Regions from separate parts of the Homo sapiens genome. Here region 1 is linked to region 2. The links come from fine-mapping of genetic effects on gene expression. Tissue or cell type: esophagus muscle. Region 2 holds a variant in brackets; the other region holds the start of a gene. All regions are shown on one strand. Distances are from middle to middle.

Region 1 (8,000 bases), 320 kb before region 2:
GTGACATCTTCTTGACTAAACCCCTGTTCATTCCTTCCACCACAAAATGTCAGCTTATGAAACAGGAATCGTTCATATGTAGCTTGTTTTTAACCTTTGATATTCCCAGCCAAATTTTCTAGAGAAAGAGTGACCCTCATACCATTCCCATCCATGGGAAAATGTGGTCCTCATACCAGCCCCAGCAGAGATACTGAGACAGTTCAGCATTTCTGAGCCAAACATTGGGGGGATCGCACAGCACAGGGGTTCAAAGTAGGAGCTCTGCGGCCAGACTGTTTGGGTTCAAATCCCAACTCTTCCATTCACTACTTCTGTAAATTTGGGTATGGTTACTTCCCTATGTCTCAATGTCCTGTCTGTTTCACCAGGAGCATGATGATGATGGTGGTGATGATGATGGTATCTCCCTTACAGAGTAGTGGGAGGACACAATGAGTTAAAATACAAGCGTCTAAAACAGTTTGACACTCAATAAACATTAGCTTTATTTTTCTGTATGTCCCATGGCAAAGGCACCTCAAATTCATCTCCATTGCTTTTAAAGGTACATTCCAGCAGATAAAGGGAAAGGAGAGACACTTCCAATGACTATGAAATATTTATTAGCAAAAGACTTTTTAAGATTGACATAACAAAGAGGGAAAATAACTCTATGTTACTCCATGAGTTGCAACATGTTTTCATTTGCTGCACAGAACATGAAACATACAGGTTGCAGTTGTCTTCTGGGGAGGCAGGATGTTGGGGAGGCAGGACGTTTGGGAGCCTTATTTTACAAATGAAAGGTGAAGCCACTTGCTGTGGGGTCACACAACTAGTTAAAGGGAAGCTCTGAGACTGGAATAATGGTTTTCTGCCTGGTATCCAGAGTGCAGCTCAACTTCTTGGTTAAAATCAACACATAGGAACTAAACCACTGGCCTGCTGTGGTGACTTACATCTGTAATTCCAGCACCCTGGGAGGCCAAGGTGGATGGATTGCTTAACCCCAGGAGTTCGAGACCAGCCTGGGCAACATGGTGAAATCCTGTCTTCATGAAAAATACAAAAAATTAGCCAGGCATTGCAGTGCCAGCTAACCAGGAGGCTGAGGTGGGAGGATACTGTGCCTGGTAGTGGAGGCTGCAGTGAGCCATGATCATGCCACTGTACTGCAGCCTGGGTGACAGAATGAGACCGTCTAGAAAAAAAAAGAAAAAGAAAAACGCCCAACACAATTTATTCTTCTTCCTTCTGTCTTTTCAACTGCTCCAGTGTGTTCAAGTTTCCAGGAACATTCCTAAGGGAAGGGAAGGGCATTCACTGGCCAGAGCTGGGGAGCGTTAATGAACAATTAAAAGTGGCTTTGGTGAAGAAAGCAAACGGAAGCCTGCTGCATGCATGGGAGAATAATATTTTCCCTCTGAAGAGGGCAGTATGCAACCAAGGGCAAGTTGTGTACTCAGGTTTTTCTCCCAGGTCTTGCAGTGCAGCCCTCAGAAGCTGAAGCATTTATTTCCAAGAGCTTATTTCTGAATGACAAACATCTTCATACATGAAATAGGATTCTGGAGGTTTGAGCACAGTTACACACTGCCTCTTGCCTGAGGGGACACAGTGCAAACTGATACTAAGGTGGTTATGTAAGATGGATGGAAGAAACTCCAACGATTTCTTTTTCTATCATCTGCCCTCCCAAACCGTCCTCTATGAAATTAAACAACAGCACAGCATTTCAGACGGTCTCTGATGTTTGCAGAAGAAAGTGTTTCTTTTTCTACTAAGACTGCATGCAGCCTGGTTTCTGCTGCCTAAAGCAAAACACCTTCTTGAAAACATCCTTTGCACAGAAATAAAATGTTGGGACTGGGGATCTTAGCTCCTGGGATGCATTTATCAAACCAATCACAGTAATTATAATTAAAACAAACTAAGTGAGAGCTGAGCATGAAACACATTAGCAGGAAACCTGAACTGCATACAATTAAGCCCTGCTTGGTGGCATTTTGAGGTATGTCATTAATACATTTTTGGGGTGGAGAAGATTGATTTTTTTTCCTTAAACATCTTGGTCTAGTTGCATGAAAGGCTTCAACAACAGTTACAAAGGAGGAATAAGGATAGACACCATTAACTGCTAAGATTAGAGCTTTAAGACAGATGGCCAAAGGTAGCCTAATTGGCTATTTTTTAAAAAATCTTCCTCAGACACACTGTTAAATATGTTTATTGGGCATTAATTTAACCTATGTCTGTTTTAGGGAAGTAAAGAATTGAAGATCTTTAGGGAAAACACAGCTTCCATTCCTAGCCTCAATGCATTAAGTCAGCAGTGTTGAAAACCTTTCCACTCTTCCCCATTGTCTAGAGGAGAAAGTCCGTTTTCCTTACAGGTTCTTCATTCAGGTGTCGCCTCTTCAGTAAAGTCCTTACCATATTCTCCTCTCCTAAACCTGGGCTCCCTCGCCATTACAACAGGTATCACACTGGTTTTTAACTCTATTTATTTGATCTTTCTCCCCTGGGTCTCCAGCACCCAGCACATGACCCAGCACAGAGCAGATGCTTCAAAAACGTTGAATGAAAAGCGACCAAATAAATAAATAAATAAATAAATAAATAAATAAATAAATAAATGAATGATCTATCCTTCTGGGTCCACCACAAACCAAATCCTCCAGGTAATCCTCCATCTTGCCCTACCCTGGATAGATGTCAGCTGGCTCTGCAATGGAAATTCTGGAAGACTTTTACGAAAAATACATAGAAGAGTAGCTTAGGAGAGGCAGCTCAGGTTGGAAGGGATGTGTGTGAGGTAGGGTGTGTGTGTGTATGTGTGTGTGTGTGTGTGTAGCACTATGAAGCTCCCCATTAGAATAAAAGCACAGGATTTTACTTAAATCTTATTTGGGGGATTGGGTGGGTGACGACCGACTCCAGGGCACACCTGGGTGTATCTTCCCATTTTGCCTAGGGATGGGAGAGCATAGAAGAGATTTTTCTCCAAGCCACTTCAAATATGTATATTTTTAATTTCTATTTTGAGATTGTAGATCCAAATGCAGTTCTAAGAAATAATACATAGACATGCCATGTACCCTTCACCCAGTTTCCCCCGATGTTGACACGATGGCAACCAGGACATTGACATTGATAAAATCCACCCACCTTACTCAGATTTCACCAGTTTTATATGCGCTCATTTGTACGTGTGTGCGCGAGCGTGGGGTGTACACTTTATATAATATTTCTGAAAGTGGCTTTTCCCTTGCAATGGAGACTGGGAAGGGGTCCAGCCTGATCCATCCCTGCCACGGAGTTGACTCCGGCAGACAGCAGTCTATGCTTGTATTCGTCTCTCGCACACAGTAGGTGGCCAACGACCGTCCACATAAACCCTGGAATTTGTCATGTCAGGGCGCGTGCAGGAGGGGAGCGCCACATTGTAAGGAAGAAAACCGAGACTGAAGTGCCCAGTATTTTGGAAGCAAAAATCAAACAAACAAAAAACTTGACGATTTCCCCCCGAATTGTGAATTAGCTAGCCGGCTAATTACTCCAAAGCGATCCTGGTGTCGGCACTCGCTGCGACCGCCGAAGAGCGCTGTTTCTGAGCCCCGCTCCCGGCTCTGCCGGCGGGGTAGGGGACGCGGGGGCTCCTCCCACCCCTACCGCCGCGTTCACCCCTTTCTTCCCTGGGGCTGGACTGTTTCACCCCGTCTCCAGGCAACGGCCAGGCGCACCGGGCGGGACGTCATTTCCTGAGGAGCCCGTGGGGAGGGGGCGGGCAGGAGGAGGGACGAGGGGGCGGGGCCCGGGCCGGGCTGGCAACGAGACGGCGTCGGAACTCGCTGGAAGACTCGGCCCGGGTGGCTCAACAGTTCGCAAAGTCCGGGCTTGCGGCCGGGCGGCGCAGAGGCGCGGAGGCTCCCCGGGCGGCTGCATCCCGGGGCTGCCCCGGACATGCCCCGCACCCCTTGTCGGACGCCCGCGCCGCTTCACCGGCTGCCACTCCCCGGAGTGCTCTGGGACTAGAGCGCCCTCCGCCCCAACTTCTGACTTTGGGGTCCCCCAGCCCTAGAGGAACGGGCGCCCGGCTGGGGGAGCCCCGGGCATGGTGTGACGGGGCAGTCAGGTCAGCTTTGCGGCGCCCCCAAACTCCAGCCACCCGTCGTCTCCGTGCCCTCCAGAATGTAGCTGCTGACCCCGCGCCCCCCGGACTCCAGCAGCAGTCTCCGCCACCTCCGGGCTCCAGCAGCCAACTCTTGTGTCTCTCAGGAACCCGCCGACGTCTCCGCGTCCCCCGGATTCCAGGTTCGCGACCCCCGCCGTCTTCGCGCCTCCGGGACTCTAGCAGCGGTCTCCGCGACCCCCTAGGATCCAGCCACTGTACCCGTGCTCCCCAAACCCAGGCTCCAGCCGTCGTCTCCGCGCTCCCGGGGATCCAGCTGTCGCGCCAGTACCCGCGAGGACAGCGGCACCGCCCACACCCCGCGCGCTCAGAGCCCGGCCGGGCCTCGGCGTGGAGATGAACGCGCCGCTGGACGGCCTGTCGGTGAGCTCGTCCTCCACCGGCTCGCTGGGCTCGGCGGCCGGGGCGGGCGGCGGCGGGGGCGCGGGGCTGCGGTTACTGTCTGCCAACGTGCGCCAGCTGCACCAAGCGCTGACCGCGCTGCTGAGCGAGGCGGAGCGGGAGCAGTTCACCCACTGCCTGAACGCTTACCACGCGCGCCGCAACGTCTTCGACCTGGTGCGCACCCTGCGCGTGCTGCTGGACAGTCCGGTCAAGCGGCGCCTGCTGCCCATGCTTCGTCTGGTCATCCCGCGCTCCGACCAGCTGCTCTTCGACCAATACACGGCCGAGGGCCTCTACCTGCCCGCCACCACCCCCTACAGGCAGCCCGCCTGGGGCGGCCCCGACAGCGCGGGGCCAGGGGAGGTGCGCCTGGTGAGTTTGCGGCGTGCCAAGGCCCACGAGGGCTTGGGCTTCAGCATCCGTGGGGGCTCGGAGCACGGCGTGGGCATCTACGTGTCTCTGGTGGAACCAGGCTCTCTAGCTGAGAAGGAAGGACTGCGGGTCGGGGACCAGATTCTGCGCGTCAACGACAAATCCCTGGCCCGGGTGACCCACGCGGAGGCCGTCAAGGTAAGGCTGTGGTTTGGAGAGAGTCTGGGGCAGAGTATGGACAGAGTGGCACAGCTTTTTCAGTAACTCCATGCTGTGTGTCCTTAGATGAATCACTTGGCCTTTCTGGGCTTTTTTTTTTTTTTTAATACTTTAAAACAGGAATGTATAGCTTACAGAGCAAATAGCTCTCAGGCACTGGGAACGTAGTTCTGCACAGACATGGCCCTTGCCTTTGTGAGGCTTAAAAGCTAGTGCAGGTGATAGTAACAAATACTTGAGCAAATGTGTGGTTACAATGTGTGAATAGGGCTGTGGATTCTTATGAGCATTAAAAGAGATAAAATCTCTGCTTGGCATAATTAGGTGGCCTTTGCTACTGCCATTCTGTGGTTTTTTGTTTTTTGTTTTTCCCTGAAACAGTTTTGTTAGCTCTTAAGTGGCCTGAGGAGGCCGTTTGTGTGATCCACAGTGCACTGGCTTGACGCTGCTGTTTTTGGACCAGGTTGTGTATCCTGAAGCAAGTCACTTGCCCTCTCAGGACCTCTTGTTCTCCACTTGGAAAATGGGGCCACTGGACCAAATAAGCGGTCCCTAACCTTTTTGGAAATGAGACTCCTGCCTGAATGTAAAAAATAAATTCCCTAGCCCCTGAGAGTGTTTGTCCTTTCTGCCATTTGTTAATTGAGAAATATAACCTCATGACAACAGGCTTCCAGGGATTTAATCATGCTTTTTAAAGGAGTGTGTGTGCTTACTGATCTACAGCCCAGGGCTACTGAAAACCAGTTGGAGTATGATGGATAGTGTTGGGTCCAGGGTGGATTCATGGATCCTTTGCAGGCATTTTTCCCCCTTCCCCCCTCCCCCGACCTCCTTTGCGTACAAGAAGTGAAGAGTTTGGGGGAAAAGGGACACATGCTCTGCTTCTGCAGAGAAATGCTTCTCAGGGGGTTGGACTGTTCTGTAAACCCCCACTCCCCGCCAGCGCAGGTGTTTTGAACTCCAGCTGAGGGCCTGCTGGCTGCTGGGAAACTCCTAGGCAGCAGAGGCCCACGACTACTTCCTCCTGAGTGCCGTTCAGTGGCCTGTGTCCAGGTGAGTCTTGAGCCGTCTCCCTGGCTGTGCACCTGATGTTGGCTTCCCTCATTTGCTTCCCAGCCCATCAACCCCTTTGGAGGAAGCCCTTGAGGCTTTCAGAAACTTCTTTGTAGCTTCTGGAAAAAGGCCGATCGGTTTATACTGCATCAGGGTGCAGTGGGCAAAGCTCGTTGTGAGTTTCCATGCAACAATTCCTCTTCCCCCTCTATCAATCTTTTCCCTTTGTTTAGCATTCCATATATTTATAAAGAAGTAGTCCATTAGCCTTGGCCTTAAATGGTCTGGAGTTCCCAGATGATAAATTTATGCACTAAAGATACTTGAGGCAAATGATCATTTGTAAATGTGGATTCAGTTTTAGTGGCAATTTAAAAAGACTTGGGTAACTTAACGGTCACAAGGTGATAAGGTGATATGCTTTGGAAAGGCTGTCAGTTACCTTGGGCATTCAAAACGCAGACTGTCCCTTCAATTTGCACCCCAGACTCAGCTGTGCCATAAAGGTCAAGCTGCTTGGCTGTGAGTTTCAGTTTACCAGCAGTGCTCCCCGCCTGCCACCCCCGCCTTCCCCCACCACCATTTCATTGAGCCCGCTCCAGATCTTCTCTCTGAATCTCCCTCAGTAACACCATGGTGCTGTTAAACTGTGACTCAGAGCAGCACCAGCCTTTAGCTTGTTTGTTTACTCTTGCTGCTTCCAGAGTAAAACCTAAACTCTCCATGTCATAGTTTTTGAAGCCTGAGAATAAACCCTTGCTGGCAAGGGAGAGGTTGATAGGAGCAGAGCTGTCCTTTAAGTGTGGCAGCCTGTGGTGCAGGAGCCTGTGTGAGCTGAGCAGCTCTGTCTCTTGACTGTCATTTTCCCAACAGAGGTGGCTACATTGGCAAAATGAGCTCTTGCCCCAGGGTCACCCCACTTCTAGCCATGGCGGGACACATAACCTGCCTGACATGGACCCTTTGGACCCTTCAGAAGCAACAGGCAAAATGATGGCTGCTTTGTGTTACATTAACCCCAGGAGGAAAAGAGGACAGACTTTTCTTTGGTGGGTGGAATTTTAAAATGGAGGAGGCGGAACTTCTTCCCTGAGGCCATGGCACTCCTCGTGTAGTTTCAGGGACAGTTTAAAAGAACACCTGGAGAACTGTTGACACATTTCCACAAAATTAAGAGCGAAAAGCCCCTTAACTGAAAGCTGAAAGAGGCCCCAGCTTTTCTACTAGGCACAGACTGCCCTTAACCAGGATTTCTCCACGGGGAGCCGTTCTTTGTAAACTGCAGTGCTGCGAGTCACCATGTCGGGGATTTTATGGTAAAAGTACATTACTGTTAACTGGACTTCAGACTTCATTCAAATTTCACCAGTTTTTCTGCCTATGTCCTTATTTTATTCTAGGATACCACATTGCATTTAGTAGAAGATGTGTTTTCAGTCTTAACAATATTTTTTTTCCTGCGATGGAAGGTGGGGTGAGGGGGAGGAGATCCTCTGAGCTTCCCAAACGGAGAGATTCAGTGTGTGTGTGTGTGTGTGTGTGTGTGTGTGTGTGTAATAAAAATTAAATTAAATTAAATTTTAGGAATCAAGTTACCTAATAATTTATGAATAAAGGAAAGTTGCAGCTTTTTAAAGAGTGGGTCGAGCAAAGTTTTTTCCACTTCTCTTTCTGATAAATCAAGCATCCATTGTTACCTGAAGCAGTTCAGTGAGGATTTGATCCTATATCCATTGGGGCTTCCACCCCTCTCTTGAAACCCATTTGCAAAATCAGCAGTGACAGGTCCAGATAA
Region 2 (8,263 bases):
GTTTCACAAATGAGCAAATGAGTGAACAGAGTCTCAAGAGACAATGGTAGGGATAGGAATGGGTCAAATCTGGCTCCTGCCCCAGAACTGTCTCTGAATTTTCACTAGGCCTCTCACTATCAGTACGACTATTTTCATGGGTCTAGAAGTTCTGGACAATGCAATAAGGCAGGAAAAATAAATAAGAACTACTAACCTTTGAGGAAAATGAGACAACAATATGTTCTTTTCTGCAAATAATGTGAATGCCTATCTATAAAATCCAGGAGACCCAACAGAAATACTAATAGAATTAATAAGGTGATTCAGTAAGGGGATGGTTATAAATTAAATACAAAAAGTAAAAAAATACAAAAATCAATAGTTATTTTCACTAGATGAGAGCTATCTAGAAAATATAATGGGGAGAATATTCCATTCAGGACAGCAAAAAAATATATAAAATTTCTAAGTATAAACCTAATAAGAAATGTGCAGGGCTTATGTAATAAAAACCATTAAAGTTTACTAAGAGACATTGTAAAAATTCAACCAAATAGGAAGACATGCCATGTTTTTAGATAGAAAAATGTAATATTTTAAAGACGGCAATTCTTCACAAATTAATATATGTATTTAATTACAATTCCAGTAAAAATCCCAAGCGTTTTTTCAAGGAAATTATTAAGATAGGCATAAGGTTCATCTGATAGAATAAATAGCCAGAAATGTTTTAAATGAAGAAAAGAAGGAGGATACACAGAATAAAGATAGTAAATGTCATATAATTGGTATTTTACTAGCATAAAAATAAATAAACAATGAAACATAATACAATGGCTTGTATTAGACCCATGTCTATCATAGAGTAAACAGTGGAGGAAAGATGGTTTAACAAGTGGTTAACTGTTGGAGGAGAAATAATGCTGGAGCCCAACTTCATTTCCATCACCCCCATTAACATGAATTCCAGATGGTTTTAATTTTTTAAGAGTACAAATGATTTTATGAAATTACAAGGAATATAAATGAATACCTATCTGACCTTAAAATGGGAAAAACATTCCTATGTATAAAAGCAAAATAAAGAACCACAGATTTTATAGATGAATAGAGCCCTCCTGAGATTATCTGACACATTATTTTTTTTAAAGGATAACATTTCTATTTGTGAAAATCATCATGAATACTCTTAAGAAGCAAACAACAAACTAGAAAATATTTGTAAGGTGGATGAAGCCTTAATAACCTCAAAATAATGTTTACAAACCAATAACAAATGGCAACATCCCAACCTTCCAAAATAAACCCACTCATAAGTGGTGAAGTACAAATGGAAAAGAGATTTAAGAAAAACATACATCTCATAGATGATCAATGAAGTGAAAATGATAATAAATTATCTTCTTTTAAAAATATCTTCCTTTAATGCTAGCAGCAGCATAAATCAGTTTAACCTTTCTAGAAGGCAATTGCTAATAAAATAACAGCTAAGCACTTATATGTCTCTCATGTGCAAGGCATATTATAAATCATTTGTATATATGTGTATGTATGCCTGTGTATGTATATACAAATATATCTTGGTATATGTCTTGATATATGTCTACATATACATATATAAATACACATATATGTGTGCACATACACACACACACAGTTTAATCCTCAGAACAATCCTATGAGGTATGAACTATGATCATCCTTGTTTTACAGAAGTGGAAGCTGAGGCCCTCCAAGTTTTAAGTAACTTGCCCAAAGTCATACAAGCAGCAAATGGTAGTGAGGTGGGAGATGAGACTTGACTCTGGAGGCAGGGCTTGGACTTGGGACCAAATTGAGGACTAGCTAAAACAGGCATGAGGTAGAATCACCTCTCAGGTGACAACCTGAAAGTGACTGCCCCTTTCCATGGCAATGACCTGATGACCTGGAAGTTACCACCACTTTTCTAGAAATGTCTGCATACTCTGCCTCTTAATTTGCATATAATTAAAGGTGGGCATAAATATGACTGCAGAATTGCCTCTGAACCGTTACTGTCAGCACACTGCCTATGGGGTAGCCCTGCTGTGCCGGAGCAGTCACGGAGCTGTACTGCCACATCAATAAAGCTGTTTTCTTCTACCACCAGCTGGCTGTTGAATTCTTTCCTGAGTGAAGCCAAAAACCCTCCCAGGCTAATCCCCAATTTGGGGCTTGTCTGCCCTGCATCAGTAGAGCCAGGATTCAAACTTGGGCACACTGACTCCTGAGACCACATCAGCAATTCTATTTTTGATGAACTTATCCTAATGAAATAATTGGAGATATTCTAACATTTACATACAGTAATGTTAATCAAGATAATATTTGTATATTAATTTAAAGTGGAACTGATTTTTTTTTACTAATGGAGTAAGTTATATAAAGCATGGGATATTAGTGTTGATAAAATGCCATGAAGCTATTAAATCATATGTGATGGATGCCAAGTTGCTAACACAGGAGAATGTTCACAATAATTGTTAAGTGAGGAAGGCCAGATACCCAGCCACTACAAAGTGGATCCACACTCACATATGTGACACACACAGGGAAGACCAGAGAGCTGTGGAGCTGAGGGCTAGATTGACACCTTGAGGTCAGACAGTTGAGGGTTTGAATGCGTGCTCTGCCACTTACTAGAAATGTGACACTGGGCAAGTTATTTAGCATCTTGGACCTATTCCCTCATCTGTAAAATGGGGGTAATAATACCTGCCCTGCAAAGTACATAAAGCTCTTGGCCGGGGCCTGGCCCAAAGGTTGCTCAAAGTGCTCTCAGAGCTTATTACTGGGCAGGACCACTACAGATAGCTCACTTTCTTCTTGACATCTTCTGGACTTCTCCATATTTTCCTTGGGTGGCTGAGGCCCAGGGTGGGGCTGAGACAAATGAGCACTAAATCACAAAGGATTAAAATATTCTGGGCTGGAAGCCCCCTGCATACTCCATCTCTGATCTCAAGTGCCCAGCACAGGGCCTGGCCCAAAGGAAGGAACATTAGAGGAAGAGGAAAGGTAAAGCTCACACTAGCTCTGCCAGCAGCCACCTGGGCCATGGAGCCTGCCCTCTGCTGACCACATCTCCTTCCCAGTGTCTGAGGGCCATATCATCCTGGCTAGTTCACTGCAGACCAAGTGGACCAGACCAGAGACAAGGTGGCTGGCTGCTCAAGAGTGGAACCAGGAGCCTCATGGCCCAGTGCAGGGAGCACTGGCGGGGAGCACTAGCTTCCCTATCCAGAAGGAGACCCCCACCTCTGCCCTAGAGCTCCTCATTTGCACCAAGGACCTGCATCCCACCTGACTCCACCATGGTCCAGCATCAGCACCCTGCCCCAGGGGCAGCTCCAGCCCTCCATCTGGCCACCAGCCAAGCTCTGCTTCTCAAATGGCCTAAATGGCGTTTGCAGACCTCATCCAGTCATGTCAATTCTGCTGAAATCCTTTCCAGGTCTTCCAGCTGCTCTTTGGATAAAGTCCGAAAATCATACCGCAAACTACCAGGCCTGTTGCCCTCACCAGCCTCCTCCAGCCCCTTTGCCTAGTCGTCCACTATACTTTAGACCTTGGTTCAACCTTCCTGCCCTCTGAGAAGGTGTCCCTCACCTCCCGGACTAGATCAATCCCCATATCGTGGGGTCTCCGAGCACTCCGGGCCTCTCACATGGAGCCCTAGAGACCTAATCATGGTGTAAGTCTGCATTTGTCAATATGGTTGGCTTGTTTTGCTTTCTCGCTCACCTCTACACTCCCCAAGGGCAGGGACCATGCCTGCCTGTGTCCCTGGTAGCCCCAGTGCCTCACACATGCAGACAACTGCCCCTTCTGCAGCACCTGCCAC[G/A]GGTCAGCACCGCTCTAAGCGGAAACACATCCTCTCAGGGTCCTAGCTTCTCTGCCTCATTCTCAAAGTCCTGGATCCAACTCTGTGCTGGAGCTGACAAGCTCCCTTCCCTGCTGGATTGGAACATGGGATATGTGGGTAGCTGGCAGATAGGCAAAGCCTTGGACTCTGGAGGAGGAAGATGGGGTGTGGCCTGGCTCTGGCCTGTGCCAGCTGTGACACCCTGACAAAGCTCCTTCTGGCAGGCAAACCCAAGGATCTGAAATACAGTCCCCCCACTGCCCAGCCGTGATCTAGGCAAGGTCCCTTGGCCTCCTGAACTTTCACTCTTCTGCACCCTCCGGAGGGATGAGGTCCCTCACCTCTGCTTTCTCTCTTTCTTGGTCTTCCTCAAACCACCCATCTCTCCCACCCTTGAGTCTAGCAGAGGGATCGTCTTCCCACAAGGCCATAAGCACCTGAAGGTGGAGATGCACTGATGGGATGACTGCATGGGGCTGATCCAGTTCCGTGCCCCCAGGGCAAGCCCTGACAGTGTGACTGATTTATCTGTCAACAGCCCGTAGTGGGTGCTCAATACACGTTTGTTGACTGAAGGAGGATGAATGGATGTGTGGCCCCAGACACCATGCTGGAAGAGGACGGGACAGCATAGGCCCTGGGGGAGGCCAGCCCTACAGTCCCACCAGGTCACCTCCCATCCCAAAGGGGATCTGCTGAACAGTAAGGACTCTAGGACCCTCTTCCCAGGGTCCCACCCATTCATGCAGACACACAGCTTTCTCAGCCAATCTCAGCCAAGTCATTACTTCCATCCAGGGAAGGCCTCTGCTTTAACCTTGTCCTGCCCATGCCACAGATCAGCCTAGGGCCCTGGCCCAGTTAACTGGGCCTCCCACCAGCCTGCTCTGGGGCCACCTCTGTTCACCCTTGGCCTCAGGGCCAAGTGTCCAGGCAAAGGGCATGACATTTCCCCCTGGCATTTTATGCAAGTCCCAATGAGAGAAGCAGCCTCTGATTCCAGTGTATTTTATAGAACCCACATCCTTATCTATTATACACAGATGCAAATGGGAGTCCTGTCCATGAGGCCCTGAGTCCATGGTTCCCAGCTCCATGTGGTGGCAGGAGAACTCACTTGCTAGGGAGGAGCCTCAGTGGTCATACTAAGAGATGTGTTCAAAATGCGAGGAGAAACAGCTGGCAGGCCCTCCTCCTACCATGGCACATCTGTTAGCAAGATTGGGGTGGGCTACCATGGGCCTGGTACTGAGGTTCCACAGTGCTCTGAGCAGGGCCAGCAGAAGGGGCTGATGGAGCATCTGCTACCACAGGAGCAGGGAGTGAGTCTGGGGGTGGGAGGAGACAGGCTCCACTGGTCCCAGAGCAGGCCAGGAAGGGGCAAGCCTGGCCATTCAAAACAGCTGCTGATGCTCGGCATCTTGATGTGCCATGGCCTCTGCAAAGCAGAACTCTCCAAATGAGTTCCTGCCTCTCTGCCTGACCCATGGGGGCAGTCTCCACTGCCATTTCCTAGACAATGTCTTACTCGACCCGTGCCTCAGTTTCCCCATCTGTAAATGGGTACGGTATCTCCACCCATCTCTTTAGGTCTTTGTGGTGATCAAATGAGACAAGCCACATCAAACGCATGAACAGTGCCTGGCACACAGGAAGGGTTCAGTATATGGCTGTTATTATCATCAGTGTTCACCCTGTGAAAGCCCAGAGCACCTCCAGGCAGCTGCTAAGCACTGGACACCTGAGGCCTCCACTGCCTGCCTTCCGGAAAGGAACCCAGCCCAGCCCAACCCTGGACGTAGAGTCACAGATCTAGAGGGGCTGAGGCCAGTGCTCCTGCACTCTGCTCTGCCCCAAGACTCTGACACCACAGATCCATATGCCCAGGGCTACCATGTGAGACCTCTGTCCAAAGCTCCCAGACAAGCTGATGGGCCAAAAGGAGCCCTACTCCATGACTCAGGAGAGATGGGCTTTAGAGGCTGCTCAGCAGCTCACTGTGCATGGCCTGGAGCCAATCAGTTAAGGGCTTCCCTTAAGCCATTCAACCTCTGCAGCTGGGTTATCAAAGAATGACCCGGGACCTGGCCCAACCAAAGCACGGGGGTGCTCTTCACCTGGTTACCCCACAGATGACACAGGCTGAGCTGGGAGGCCCCTGAGTCAGGAGCCCATCTGCCCCCTCCACAGCTCCTTCGGCACAGGCACTGTTCTCTTAGCTTCAGGGACTTTAGCATCTTCCTTCCCCTCCTATCTCTCCAGCCATTCCACAAACTTTCTTTTCCCATGACCTAAATGTTGCTGGCTCCGGCAATCCTCTTGGTGCTCTGAGTTTCTCACTTCCAATGCAGTGCCCCAACAACCTTGCCCTCTGCCAGAGCTCCGGGAACAGACTGAAGAGCTCAGCAAGTGGTGTTCCCATATCATCAAAGCATCAGCCACTAAGGTCTCATTAAAAGTGAATTCGAGTATTCCAAGAAGACTCCCTGGGGGAGGTGGCATCTCTGCGCCAGCCTCCCCCTGGCTCTGTCTCCAGCTCAGAGCAATCCTGAGTTCCAGAATATCTGTCCATGAATGATCACTTGACCGGGCTACATGTTCCTGCGTGCAACATCATCTTACTCCTCCTCCTGGGACCCAGTTCAGTCCCCAAGGCTAACATCAGGGAGGTAAAAACTGTCTGGTGTTTGTAACTGTCTCTCACCTTGCACCCACCACCATCCTTTCCACCCTACCTCCTCCCACACCCCTAAGTTGGCCCGGACTAGCCTCCTTTCTCCCCCATATCACCCCTGGTCTCCCGGCCTTGGCTCTGGTTCCCCACCCCGCATTCATCCTCCTCAGGGCATCCAGTGAGCTTTCTAAAACGTCATCTTTCCACATCCCTCCCCAGGATGCATCTTACAACCCGGTAAGCCTTATGTTCTTAGTCTGACATTCAAGGCCAGCCTTCCCTATTTAGCAAGAAATCACCTCTCTGCCCACTCCCCTGAAGGCTCTGGGTTCCAACTGCCCGACTCTCCCAAGTCTCTCCCAGACGGAAGCACTGTGTCTCCGGACCAGGCACAGGGCCCAGCCCTGGAAAGGGGCCCAGAGGGTGCCCCTGGCTTAGGCGGGAATCCCCCTCAGTTCCCCTGAAGCCCTCCCACCAGGCACCCCTGGGAAGCACTGCAAACATGGCTCCAACCCCAGCACCCACTCCATGGCCACATCTCCAGCAAATACTCACTTTGGCTCCAGGAGGGCCGGGGAGACCTGGATTTCCATAAGGCCCAGGAGGACCCTGAAAGAGACAAGGAACAAAAACAAAAAAAGGTGACAAAAAACAGGGGCCATCTCGCCTCTGACAGCAATGCCTGGCACCTTCCCTCCACCCACTGGTTTATCTTCTCCCCAAGCCAAGCCCTAGCAACACTGTCGTGGCCACTCAGCCTACTTTTGGGAGTACACCCTCCATGCCTGGCCCAGTGGGAAGCACATCCCATGTGCCATCTCATTTGATCCTGTTAACCTGGAAGGTAGGTGGTGTTGTTATTACTATTTTGAAGACGAGGATGCCAATGTTCACAGAGGTTCGTAACTGTCTCAGATCACCCAGCTGCTAAGAGGCAGAGCTGGACCTTGACCTCGGAGCACAAGTCCTTCACCCCTAAATTTTACCACCTCTCCACATCTCTCAGCCTAGCCCCGTCAGCCCTTCCCAGCTTCTTCAGGCTCAAACCACACTTAGCTATGCATTTCCCTCCCACGTATCTGGTACTTTCTCTCCTCGTTGCGTTTGCCCATGCTGTTCCCTCATCTGGCAGCATCTTTTCTCATCCATCTCCTCTGCTTGAAACCTGATCCATCCTTCAGGCCTGGCTCAAAGTGCCATCTCCTCCGGGGAACCCTCTAGGGCTCCTCCAGTCTCAAGTGGACTTTTTTTTTTAGAGGCAGGGTCTTGCTCTGTCGCCTGGGCTAGACTGTAGTGGTATGATCATGGCTCACTGCAGCCTCAAACTCCTCGGCTCAAGAGATCCTCCCACCTTAGCCTCCTGAGTAGCTGGGACTCCAAGCATGGGCCACTAATTTTTATTATTTTATTATTATTTTTATTTTATTATTTTTATTATTTTATTATTATTATTTTATAGAGATGGAGTCTTGCTATGCTGCCCAGGCTGGTCTCGAATTCCTGGCCTGAAGCAATCCTCCTGCCTTGGCCTTCTGAAGTGCTGGGATTACAGGCGTGAGCCACGGCAGCTGGCCCCAACTGGACTTTTGTATGAGTCTTTGGAGTTGAGAGCTCAAGAAGGATGTATTTGACCTCTTGTGAACAAAGGTGCACCTCTCCTGTGGCTACAACACGTGATCAGACCCTTAGACACCTGCAAGCTCCAAGCTTTCAAGGTCTTC

What was found. PIP is the estimated chance that this variant, and not a neighbour inherited with it, causes the effect.
Region 1: it holds the start of WHRN, and the variant in region 2 is fine-mapped to the expression of WHRN in esophagus muscle (GTEx, PIP 0.93).

What each region holds. Positions count from the first base shown.
Region 1 is chr9:114,501,312-114,509,311 of GRCh38, reverse strand. It overlaps WHRN (whirlin), which reads left to right and starts at 3,839. Exons shown (of 12, transcript NM_015404.4): 1 at 3,839-5,128. The coding sequence starts at 4,511. RefSeq lists a silencer at 3,745-4,044 and enhancers at 3,569-4,459, 4,460-5,350.
Region 2 is chr9:114,181,910-114,190,172 of GRCh38, reverse strand. COL27A1 (collagen type XXVII alpha 1 chain) reads right to left here. Exons shown (of 61, transcript NM_032888.4): 5 at 7,098-7,151. Among named protein-coding and RNA genes, the nearest start is that of MIR455, 23 kb to the left of the region's middle. The variant G/A (reference allele first, on the strand shown) is at 3,848.